3 linked regions of the Homo sapiens genome follow. The protein of the gene in region 3 purifies or fractionates together with the protein of the main gene of each other region. This does not show direct contact. Each region holds a gene or a part of one and is shown on either strand. Other genes may lie near its edges. The genes, in order: NCS1, GNB4 and KCND2.

Evidence for each region.
Region 1: the proteins of KCND2 (region 3) and NCS1 purify together in Homo sapiens (affinity purification with western blotting, with the first as the bait; one study listed by BioGRID). This does not show direct contact.
Region 2: the proteins of KCND2 (region 3) and GNB4 purify together in Homo sapiens (affinity purification with mass spectrometry; one large-scale study listed by BioGRID and IntAct). This does not show direct contact.

Annotation. Positions count from the first base shown.
Region 1 is NC_000009.12:130,227,842-130,231,497, forward strand, and holds part of NCS1 (neuronal calcium sensor 1), read left to right. Parts: intron 1-3,656. UniProt on the Homo sapiens protein: Neuronal calcium sensor, regulator of G protein-coupled receptor phosphorylation in a calcium dependent manner. Directly regulates GRK1 (RHOK), but not GRK2 to GRK5. Can substitute for calmodulin. Stimulates PI4KB kinase activity.
Region 2 is NC_000003.12:179,444,842-179,448,497, reverse strand, and holds part of GNB4 (guanine nucleotide-binding protein subunit beta-4), read left to right. Parts: intron 1-3,656. UniProt on the Homo sapiens protein: Guanine nucleotide-binding proteins (G proteins) are involved as a modulator or transducer in various transmembrane signaling systems.
Region 3 is NC_000007.14:120,734,643-120,738,298, forward strand, and holds part of KCND2 (A-type voltage-gated potassium channel KCND2), read left to right. Parts: intron 1-3,656. UniProt on the Homo sapiens protein: Voltage-gated potassium channel that mediates transmembrane potassium transport in excitable membranes, primarily in the brain. Mediates the major part of the dendritic A-type current I(SA) in brain neurons.

The sequences.
Region 1 (3,656 bases), on a different chromosome or scaffold from region 3:
TGTCAATAGGGTTTGCCCAGGTCTATCCTGGATTTAGCAGTGCAAGTTCCCTGTTCTAGGAAACTTCTCAGTCCCGGGAAAATTGGGATACTTGTCAGCCATTGGCCAGGGCTGTGGTCTCATCTGAAGGTTTGGCTGGTGATGACCTGCTTCCAAGCTCACTCATGTGGTTTGGCAGCCTTGTTCCCTTGCCATGTAGACACCTGCACAGGGCTGCCTCACAATATGGCTGCCGGCTTCCCTCAGAGCTTTCCAAGAGAGAAGGAGAGAAAGAGAGCCAGGATGAAAGCCAGTGTCTTTTTATAGCATAATCTTGGAAGTGATATCCATCACTTTTTCTTTTTCTTTCTTTTTTTTTTCTGCGACTGGGTCTCACTCTGTTACCCAGCCACCAGGTCATGGCTCACTGCAGCCTCAACCTCCCAGACTCAGACGAGCCTCCCACCTCAGCCCTCAGCTTTCCAAGTAGCTGGGACTACAGACATTTGCCACCATATCTGGCTAATTTAAAAAAAAAAGTGTTTTTTTTGTTTGTTTGTTTTGTTTTGTTTTTTTTCTGTAGTGTAGAGATAGAGTCTCACTATGTTGCCCAGGCTGGTCTGGAACTCTTGACCTCAAGTGATCCTCCTACCTCGGCCTCCCAAAGTGCTGAGATTACAGGTGTGAGCCACTGCACCCAGCCATAGATTGGTTTTTGAATGCTAAGTCACCTTGCATTCTTAGAATAAACTCCACTTTGCTGTGATGTGTTATTTTTTTATGTATCATAAAATTTGATTTGTTGGCATTTTGTTTAGGAGGTCTACACTGTTTTTTTCTTTCTTTCTTTCTTTTTTTTTTTTTGAGACAGGGTCTCACTCCATCACCTAGGCTGGAGTGCAGTGACATGATTTCAGCTCACTGCAGCCTCTGCCTCCTGGGTTCAAACAATTCTCCTGCCTCAGCTTCCCGAGTAGCTGGGACTATAGGCACCTGCCACCATGGCGCCTGGCTAATTTTTCCATTTTTAGTAAAGATGGGGTTTCACCATCTTGGCTAGGCTGGTCTCGAACTCCTGACCTCAGGTGATCCACCCACCTCAGCCTCCCAAAGTGCTGGAACTGCAGGCGTGAGCCACCATGCCTGGCCAGGCCTACACTGTTTTGAAGCGTCTGTTATTATTATTATTATTTTTCACAAGAAATCCTTTTTCATTGAAGAGACATTGAAAATATGTTTAATGAGAAAACCTCAATTAAAAAGTTTATTTTAAAAAAAACCCCTTATGTATGACTCAGATATAATCACAGTGAACATTTTAGTGTCCAGAGTGATTTTAAAAGAATTGAACACTTACAAAACTTAACACTCAGTAAACTGAGTCACACAGAAATTATATAATTAAAACCAATTTATAAAGGAACTATCACTGTTATTAATATTTCTTTTTTTTTTTTTTTCCAAGATGGAGTCTCCCAGGCTGGAGTGCAGTGGCGTGATCTTAGCTCACTGCAACCTCTGCCTCCTGGGTTCAGACAATTCTCATGCCTCAGCCTCCCAAGTAGCTGGGATTACAGGTGCTTGCCACCACGCCCGGCTAATTTTTGTACTTTTAGTAGAGATGGGGTTTCAGCATGTTGGACAGGCTGGTCTCGAACTCCTGACCTTGTGATCCACCCACCTCAGCCTCTCAAAGTGCTGGGATTACAGGTGTGGGCCATCGCGCCTGGCCAATATTTCCATCATAGAAATGTTTGACGTGTACCTTGACATGTCCCATGGTGAATGCTGATCCGTTGTCTAATTTTTCACAGTCCTCTTTTGCAAATCACCATGTCATATTATTTCCATGACAAGCTTGTCAAAGTGACAAGAGCCCTCGCATGATATGATCCCCCTTTCTATTAGCTCTGCTGGGAAATGGCCTTCTTTCTTCTATAGGGCTGTTCCTTGTGCCTACGCGGTAGTGATTATATCCAATTTGTGTTCTATCATTTTAATGATTTATTTGCCTCCTCAGGTTCCTGATAGCTCATAATTCCTAGATCACTTGCAGTGATGTAAGTCATTGACTTATTCAGAAACTGAGATGAGGCTTATTTTCCACATCATTAAATGTTGAGCCATCATTTTTCATAGCTGCATAATGCTCCATCACATGGCTGGGCCATAATTTAACCAGTTCCACAGTGTTGGACACTCAGGTTGTTGGGAATTTGGGGAAGGGATTAAAAAGTTATCTATTATGGGCCAGGCGCACTGGCTCATGCCAGTAACCCCAGCACTTTGGGAGGCTGAGGCAAGTGGATCACTTGAGGTTAGGAGTTCAAGACCAGCCTGGGCAACATGGTGAAACCCCGTCTCTACAAAAAATACAAAAATCAGCCAGGTGTGGTGGCGGGCACCTGTAATCCCAGCTATTTGGGAGGCCGAGGCAGGAGAATTGCTTGAACCTGGGAGGCGGAGGTTGCAGTGAGCCAAAACCACTCCACTGCACTCCAGCCTGGGTGACAGAGTGAGACTCTGTCTGAAAAACAAAACAAAACAAATTATCTGTTATGGAAACATTCATACACAGTGGCAGAGAGAATAGTGTAATGCTGAGTGGGCGCCTGTGGTCACTCACACCTATCATCCCAGTGCTTTGGGAGGCCGAAGTGGGAGGACTGCTTTAGGCCAGAAGTTTGAGTCCAGCCTAGGCAACATAGAGAGACTCTGTCTCTACAAAAAATATGAAAATTAGCCAGGTGTGGTGGCACATGCCTGTAGTCCCAGCTACTCAGGAAGCTGAGGCAGGAGGATCCCTTGAGCCCAGGAGTTAAAGGCTACAGTGAACTAGGATTGTACCACTACACTCCTGCCTAGGTGACAGTGTAAGACTCTGTCTCTTTAAAAAAAAAAAAAAGTGTAATGTTTTGTACTCATCACTCAGCTTCCGAATCCCCAGTTCCCTGCCAATCTTGTACCATCTGTGCCCTCCCCCCCCACCCCCACTCTTGTGATTTTGAAGCAAATTCAAGACATCATCATACTTAATCCATTTCAAAATGTATTTCTAAAAGATAAAGATTCTTTGAAAAATTCATAAAGCAAAAGCAATCAATAATTCCTTAATATCCTCTGATCTCTAGTTGCTATTCTAGTTTCCTGTTATCTTACTCTTTTTTTTTTAACTTTGTTTACTGAAATCAGAATCAGAATAAAGTCTACCCATTGTAATAGGTTGATAGGTCTCTTAAATTTATTTAGACCATGTGCAGTGGCTGACGCCTGTAATCCCAGCACTTTGGGAGGTCGAGCTGTGTGGATCACTTGAGCCAAAGAGTTCAAGACCAGCCTGGGCAACATGGTGAAACCCTGTCTCTACCAAAAATACAAAAATTAGCTGGGTGTGGTGGCGGGTGCCTGTAGTCCCACCTACTTAGGGGTGCTGAGGCAGGAGGATTGCTTGAACCAGGGAGGGTGAGGCTGCAGTAAGCTGAGATTGCACCACCGCACTCCAGCCTGGGTGATAAAGTGAGATTTTATCTCAAAAAAAAAAAACTTTAATTTTGTTTATTTTTTATGTATTTATTTTTTTGAGGTGGAGTCTCACTCTTTTTGCCCAGGCTGGAGTGCAATGACGTGATCTTGGCTCACTGCAACCTCTGCCTCCTGGATTCAAGCGATTCTCCTGC
Region 2 (3,656 bases), on a different chromosome or scaffold from region 3:
CTCCCAGAAGAAAAAAAAAAAAACCAAGTAAGTTTTGAGCACAGGATTAAAGATTAAAGAACTGAAAAAATAATCTTGAACTCTGTGTAGTAGGCTATTATTTGTATGGTAGAGGTGTAGCAATTCTGAAACTATTTTGTGTGCATTATAGGATTGAGCAAATGAGTAAATTCATTGATATTTTGGGAACTAGGGTTTCCAACGTGGAAGAAGAGAAATGAAAACATGAAACAGGCCAGGCGCGGTGGCTCACACCTGTAATCCCAGCACTGGGAGAAATGAAAAGTTAAAAATAAAACTTCAAACAATAACAATGCAGCTTTGCTTCAAAAAGAAAATCTTTGAAGGGACTCCATGTAGGCTGTCTCTACTCCTTATCTGCCATCTTCTTCTGAACCCGCTTCAGAGACACATTATCCCTCCTACTCCATGAAACAATTCTTCTCCAGGTCACCAGGGATGTCAGTCTTGCCAAACTGGATCTTCAGCCACATTTGACACAGGCAACAGATAACTCCTTCCCTATCAAAATGTCGTTTCCCCTTGGCTTCTGGGACACCGCTCTTTCTGATTTTCATCCTGCCTCATTGGCTACAGTTTCTCATTCTTCTCCATCTCAGTCAATGGTACCACCATCCACCAGTTGCTGAGGCTAAAAATTCTAATTCCCCATTTCACTCATTCTAAATCTATTCCTTCAACAGCAAGTATTATGGGCTCTACCTTCAAAATCACTGCAGATTGGACCATCTTTTTTAAAAAGTTAATTTGACCATTCCTATCACCTGCACTGCCACCACCACCACCCTGGTGTCAAACTGTATTCTTCCCTGGCCTGGATGACTGCAGGAGCCCCCCAACTGGTTTGTCAGCTTCCACTCTCTGTCTCCCACCAGCCAGCATGAACTTTAAAAGAGGTAAATCAAAGCAGGTTATATCTCAGTCGTCAGAACCCATTATTGTTAGATAAAATAAAAACGTTTTAGCCAGGCGTGGTGGTGCATATCTGTGGTCTCAGCTACATGGGAGTCTGAGGCGGGAGGATTGCTTGAGTCCAGGAGGTCAAAGTTGCAGTGAGCCATGTTTGTGCCTGGGCAATAGAGTGAGACCCCATCTGAAAAAAAATCAGGATTTTTTTTTTTTTTTTTTTTAATACCATGATCAAGAGACGGTGACTGGGCTCTGGCACACCCTTCTAGTCTCATCTGCTGCTCTCTGCCCTGCTCACTCTCTTCCAGCCTCGCCATCGTCACTGCTGTAGGTCCAGCATGTCAGGTTAGTTTCTGCCTGGGCCTTTGCTTGCTGTTCTGCCTGTAATGCTTTCTCCCAATGAAGACATAGCTCATCCTCTCATTTCATTCAGTCCTTACTTAATTTATTTGAAAATAGCCTTCCTCGTCACCCTCTAACCTCTTGAAGTTCTTGCAGTTTTTTTCTTGCATACGACTTATCTGTACTTAAAATTATGTTATTGATGTGCTGTATTATTTATCTCCTAGACAGATACAGAACAAAGCACTGTGGCAATAGGAAGTTTTGTTTTGTTTACTACCGAATCTCTAGAGCCTAGAATATGTTTGGCACATGGTCGGGACTCAGATATTTGTTGAATGAAGGAATGAATGCATGAATTAATATTTGTTGTATCTTAGCTAATGCCGTTTCAAATGGAGAAGACGGTTTCCAGAGAATCTTACAGCGTTAGTGCTACGTAAGGTGTTTGGTGATGCTGCTACAGCTTCTCTGAAAGCTAACAAGTTACCAACTTTGAGTGTTTTCACGTTATCACCTTTCTTTTGTATGCCCTCTGGTGGAGTGATGATAATAAGCGGCAAGTGAGTAGAATAGGTCAAGAAGAAACTAAAATACAAGAACCTAGATCACAAACTGGATAATTAACTTAAAAAAAATAGATTTGAAAATTTTAACTTTAGTTAAGCCTCCTGAATAATTACAATACGATTAGAAAGAATGAAAAGAAAATGAGCCACAGATTTGAAGAGAGATCTGGCTTAGGATGAAAAAATAACCTATTGAGCACACCCAAAATGTTTGGATCTCTTAAAAGAATTCCTGCTTAAATATACTTCTGTCCCTTGAAGTATTTTAATATTTTTCCATCTTTAGTTCAAAGACCTCTTTCTCTCAACTGTAGTAATAATTTCAGTGAACCTTTATTGACTACCATGTGTCGGTTAACGTACACAAGTGGTGAAGCCAGTGTTCAAACTCCAGCAGTGGAGGACCAGAGTCAGTGCCCTAAATCTTCATGCTTCACTACCACCTTTGTGCCAAGGTCGTGTGGATGGTACAGGGACCGGAGAATTTCCTTTGGAGCAATAGTTATGGACAGAAAAATGCTTGGTAAGTTCACAGTGTGTGTTCCTCAGTTCCATTTTCCAGTATGTTTATAGAGAGCCTTTTCTTCCAGAATTGCTGAAAGATGTGTTATTTTATCTTTTTTGAAATAGAAATCACATGAAATGTTTCTACACTCAGATGCTACTGACTTGCTGAAATAATATAAAGTTTCTCTTAGTGTCTATATTTCATATTTATGGCAGTAACAGCTTAATTGTTCCTCCACTTTTGGCTTTAGCAGGGTTTGTTCATATACTGTGTAGTTATTACAAAAGAAATGTAGTATACCTTACTGGGTAAGGACAAACTCCCACTGAGATGCTTGTCTTACTTGCAGTAGGAACCCTCTAAAAAAGAATTCGCTCAGAAGATATCATTATTCTTAGTATCTCTGCAAGTCAGAGCGCTGTCTTCTTAATAGCTGCATAATATTTCACTGTATGAATGCATCATAACTACTCTCCTATTTATATTTTTAATTTGTTGTCATATATACAATTGGTTAATGAATATCCTTAAACATTAATTCTTACCTATTATGCAAAAGTGTTGGCCAGTTGCAGTGGCTCATGCCTGTAATCCCAGTACTTTGGGAGGCTGAGGCAGGCAGATTGCTTGAGCCTAGGAGTTTAAGACCAGCCTGGGCAACATGGTGAAACCCCATCTCTACAAAAAAATACAAAAATTAGCCAAGCGTGGTGGTGTACGCCTGTAGTTCCAGCTACTCGGAAGGCTAGGGTAGGAAGATTGATTGAGCGCAAGAGGCAGAGGTTGCAGTGAACTATGATCATGCCACTGCACTCCAGCCTGGGTGACAGAGGAGACCCTGTCTTAAAAAAAGAAAGAAAGGAAAAAAAAGTATAAAGTACTCTTTTTAGAGGCCTTACTGTTTCTACTCTCTTACTTTTAGCTTGTCATGAATTTTCAGCTGTGGAGAAATTAATGAAATCTACTTTCTCTATGGAACAGATTCTATCAATTTCTCTATAGCTGAAGAAAGAGAGAATACTACTTTGGGAGGGACAAGATGAGGACAATGGCCTCTATGCTCAAAGAACTAATAATTGCTAGGCTCTTATATAGGATTTTTAATTTTTTTTTTTAATGGCAACACTTAGCAATGGCTTGACTCATTTTTTTTCTCCTTATTTTTATATTCAGTTTTTCAACTAAACACCTTTACCCAGAGATTGTTTAAAATATGAAAATTTGTCATTAACTACTTGGTAAGTGAAATTAAAAACCCAGTAAGGCAGCTTAAGCTGAATGAGGTTTTATGTCTAATTGGCATGTGA
Region 3 (3,656 bases):
TAATCTTGGAAATCTCTTTTGTAGTTTCCTTTGGACTTATGGCACTGTATTTCCAGTGTTCTTCATGGTCATTATATCTTTGTCCTTTAAGGATAGTTTCATTTTTTAAAAAATATCCAAAACCATTCATAATCATGACTAAAGTAGATGCACAACCTAGGTGATGTGTTATAACTACAAAATATCATGAGAGACTTTGATATAGTTATTCACTGGCTTTGTAGGTAATTCCAGAACGGGATCTTAAGCACGCATATGAACAATGTCAGCCTCTTAAGTAAAGTATACAATCTCATAAAGTAAGTCTTTGGAAAGTTCTAGTTAATCACTGTGGCCACACAGCATATTTGTCCAGAGAACTAATTTATGCCCACTGTCAAAGATCTTCTTCCTTTAGCAAAGAATCACTTTTTCAAGCTCTGTAGTTACTTGCTTTATGGAACCCTTCATTTTTGGACAAATGCCTAGCCTTTAATTATTACAGAGAAGAGTTAGAAATAGTCCAGTCAACATGGATATAGAGAACTGATCATCTAACGAATAGGGAGGAGTAGAAAAAGGCACCCTCTGGACAGTTGTAGTCTTATGTAGGGAATACATACCCTTGGCAAGCAGAGGTAAAGGGATTTCAGCCACAACTGACCCCACCACCAGGGACCTTCAAACATCACACTCATGACGCTGCCCATACAGTACAGTCCCTCTACTGAGTACAAACACACATTGTCTAAAATAACAGGATCCTACCAAAAGTTTAACTTTCAACCACCCATCTATCTCCATTCTAGACATTTCTCCTTTAGTATAAGAGCCAACTGTATGAAAACTATAGAAAGCACAAATCTAAATTTCCGATAAACCAATTTCCCAAACACTTGTATTTCTTCAGAGTTTGTCATCTGCAACAAAGAAATCAATAAAGAAAACCTTAGAATATTTTAGAAGCCTTTTGGTCTACTAAATATTAAATACTAAAATACATTTAGAAATCAAAAGTAAATAATGTGACATTCTAAAAGTACACTAATTGAAAAGTATATTTTGTGAATGCTTTTTGGTATCTTTAAATATTTGCTATATTTTTGGTTTCTGCCATAATGCAATGAATTTTACAGAGTTTTACTACTGAAAAAATTGGATTAATAAAGTAAAATATAATAACCAAGTATAATATGTCCAGTATGTAGACTGTGACCAATAAACTGAACATAATCTTCTAAGAAAGAACAGTGGATATGAACTAAATAAGTTACCAGGGGATATTTTCTATTTTCCTTCCCAAGAGATTAGGGGGAAAAAAAAGCAGAACAAACGCCCATTAGGCTAAGACAGTTTATTTATCTGGGACTGGGCTATGTGCCAAATATTAAAGTTATGCAAAAATGACCAGCTAATTCAGTCAAGCAAGCATTCAATTCAGTAAAAACGTCAGTCCAACTGACTAATAAAAGTAATATTACAAAATGGTTTGTTAGACCATATTTTTGGTGTTTAATTCAATTGCCACACTAAGACCAAGCAAAAGCATGAAATAGACACAATATTAATTTTAGAAAATTCCTATCATCACTATCAGAAATACTTTCCTTCTTCTAGTTTCTTCCATTTGCAAGTACTCTTCCTACTTTTGCTGTCCACTCCTGCCATATACAGGGAATACATGGTTTACCCCATTTCTATCAATCATTGATAAAGTCTTAACTAAATACTGACATGCTGGTGGGTATAGGCCTAAACTGTGACACCTCTCCTCTACTCCCACCATTGGTAATTATATTTTAATAGATTTATTGATTCTCGTAGTTATACTATAAGTATTTACTGAGTAGAATGTATTAGCCAAAATAAAGCTAGATTAATGCAATGACAAGTGGCAGGTTGACATTTTGAAGCAGCTCTTTTAATATATGGATCACATCACCTAATCATCTGCATACTCACAGGCTAACCTGTGAGTAATTATCATATAATAATCATAGTAGTAATTATAGTTATAATTTAATAATACTAATTGCAACAACAAAAACCCTCACTAGTTTCTAGAATGTCCCAGGTGTTTTATATCTGTTTTTTTTGTAATATTCACAATCAACTTGCAAAGGAAGTATACTATTTCCATTTTACAGATAACTTGCTCATGCTCACAAACCTAGTGATTAAAGTCCAAGGCAAAAAAATTCTAGTATTATTTGAACTATGAATATTTTAGGATATTCCTATAGATAATTCTAAATGCAGTGAGAAGTTTAGAATCAATGAGCCAATGTATAGTGTAATATTTTTAAATTTCACATTGACTTAGAAAGACACTACCCATATGTAGTCTGCCATTTATCACACCCTGCTAGGGTGGTTTTCAAACTTTAGATTCATTAGAATCATCTGGAAAGCTTACACACACACACACACACACACACACACACACACACACACAAACAAAAAAAAAAAAAACAAAACAAAAAACAGATTGTTGAGCCCTACTCCCAAATCATCAGACTCTGTAGTTTTGGGTTAGAACCTGAAATTTTGCTAATAAATTCCCAGGTGATGCTGATATTGCTGTTTGGAAGACCACATTTTGAGAACCACTGCCTAGTACATTCAGCAATGTCAAAATCAAAGATTTTTATTTAAGTAGAATAATGAAAAAGCAAGAAATAACTACTTGCTAGAACCTGAGAATGATCTCTTAGGTTATCTACTGTTAAAAACAAAATTACCCAGCTCCTAATTCCACCTAAGAATTTGGTCTTGGATGCTCTCCTATATCCTCTTTCAGTTCTCACCGCTTCCACCATGGAATCCTCTTGTAGACCTCTCATTGCTTAGCCTCTTCCACTAACCCAAATCCCAGCCCTTTTTCTGCTTAGCCCTGCCATCTCCAGGATTAACCAAGTTCTGGACCTAGGAATGTTGCACTGTCTGCCACTGACTTCTTTCTTCTCTTTTTATTGTAGTTTGGTACTAACTTGTCTCATTTCTAGCACAGCTATTTTTCTTAGCAAGTGAAAAGATTCCAATAAATGCCTTAAACTTCTAAAAGGTGATAAAGTTTACTATGTTACCTCAAACTGAGGCATTTTACTAACCCTTAAATGAAAGAAACAACTGTAAGCAAAATTTCCAGAATGCATGTTACAGGGAGTGTGGAGGCAGGCATTTGAGGAATAAGGAATTACCAAAGAGAAACACCTTCATTACCTCACTTTTAAGGCTACCTAGGATACCTTTATTTTTCAAAAGATTTTGTGATTTGGTAACAAGATGGCCCAATAACTTCCTTTAATCTACCTCATACCTCATCTAGAAATGACTGACCATTTAAAGAAATCAATGTCTCAGTGGTGTTTGGCTTATAGATCCTTCTCAGATTGACTTCCACCCTCTGTTCCACAACATAAACTATAAAGTTTATGTCACTTGGCGTAATTAAAAAACAATCTACTTGATAAAACCCATTGTGTTCCACTGCATTCTAGCCTGTGAGTACTTCACAATACAAGATTTCTATGTCAAATTAGTTTGAGGAAATTTGCAGATTATATATCCCTGTTCTTCTCACAGTGATCATCCACAATGTCATATGGTGTGAGGAACCCGGGAGCAAAGGAACCTGTTTAACACCTCAGCATTTCCCAGCCTTTTCTTGACCACAG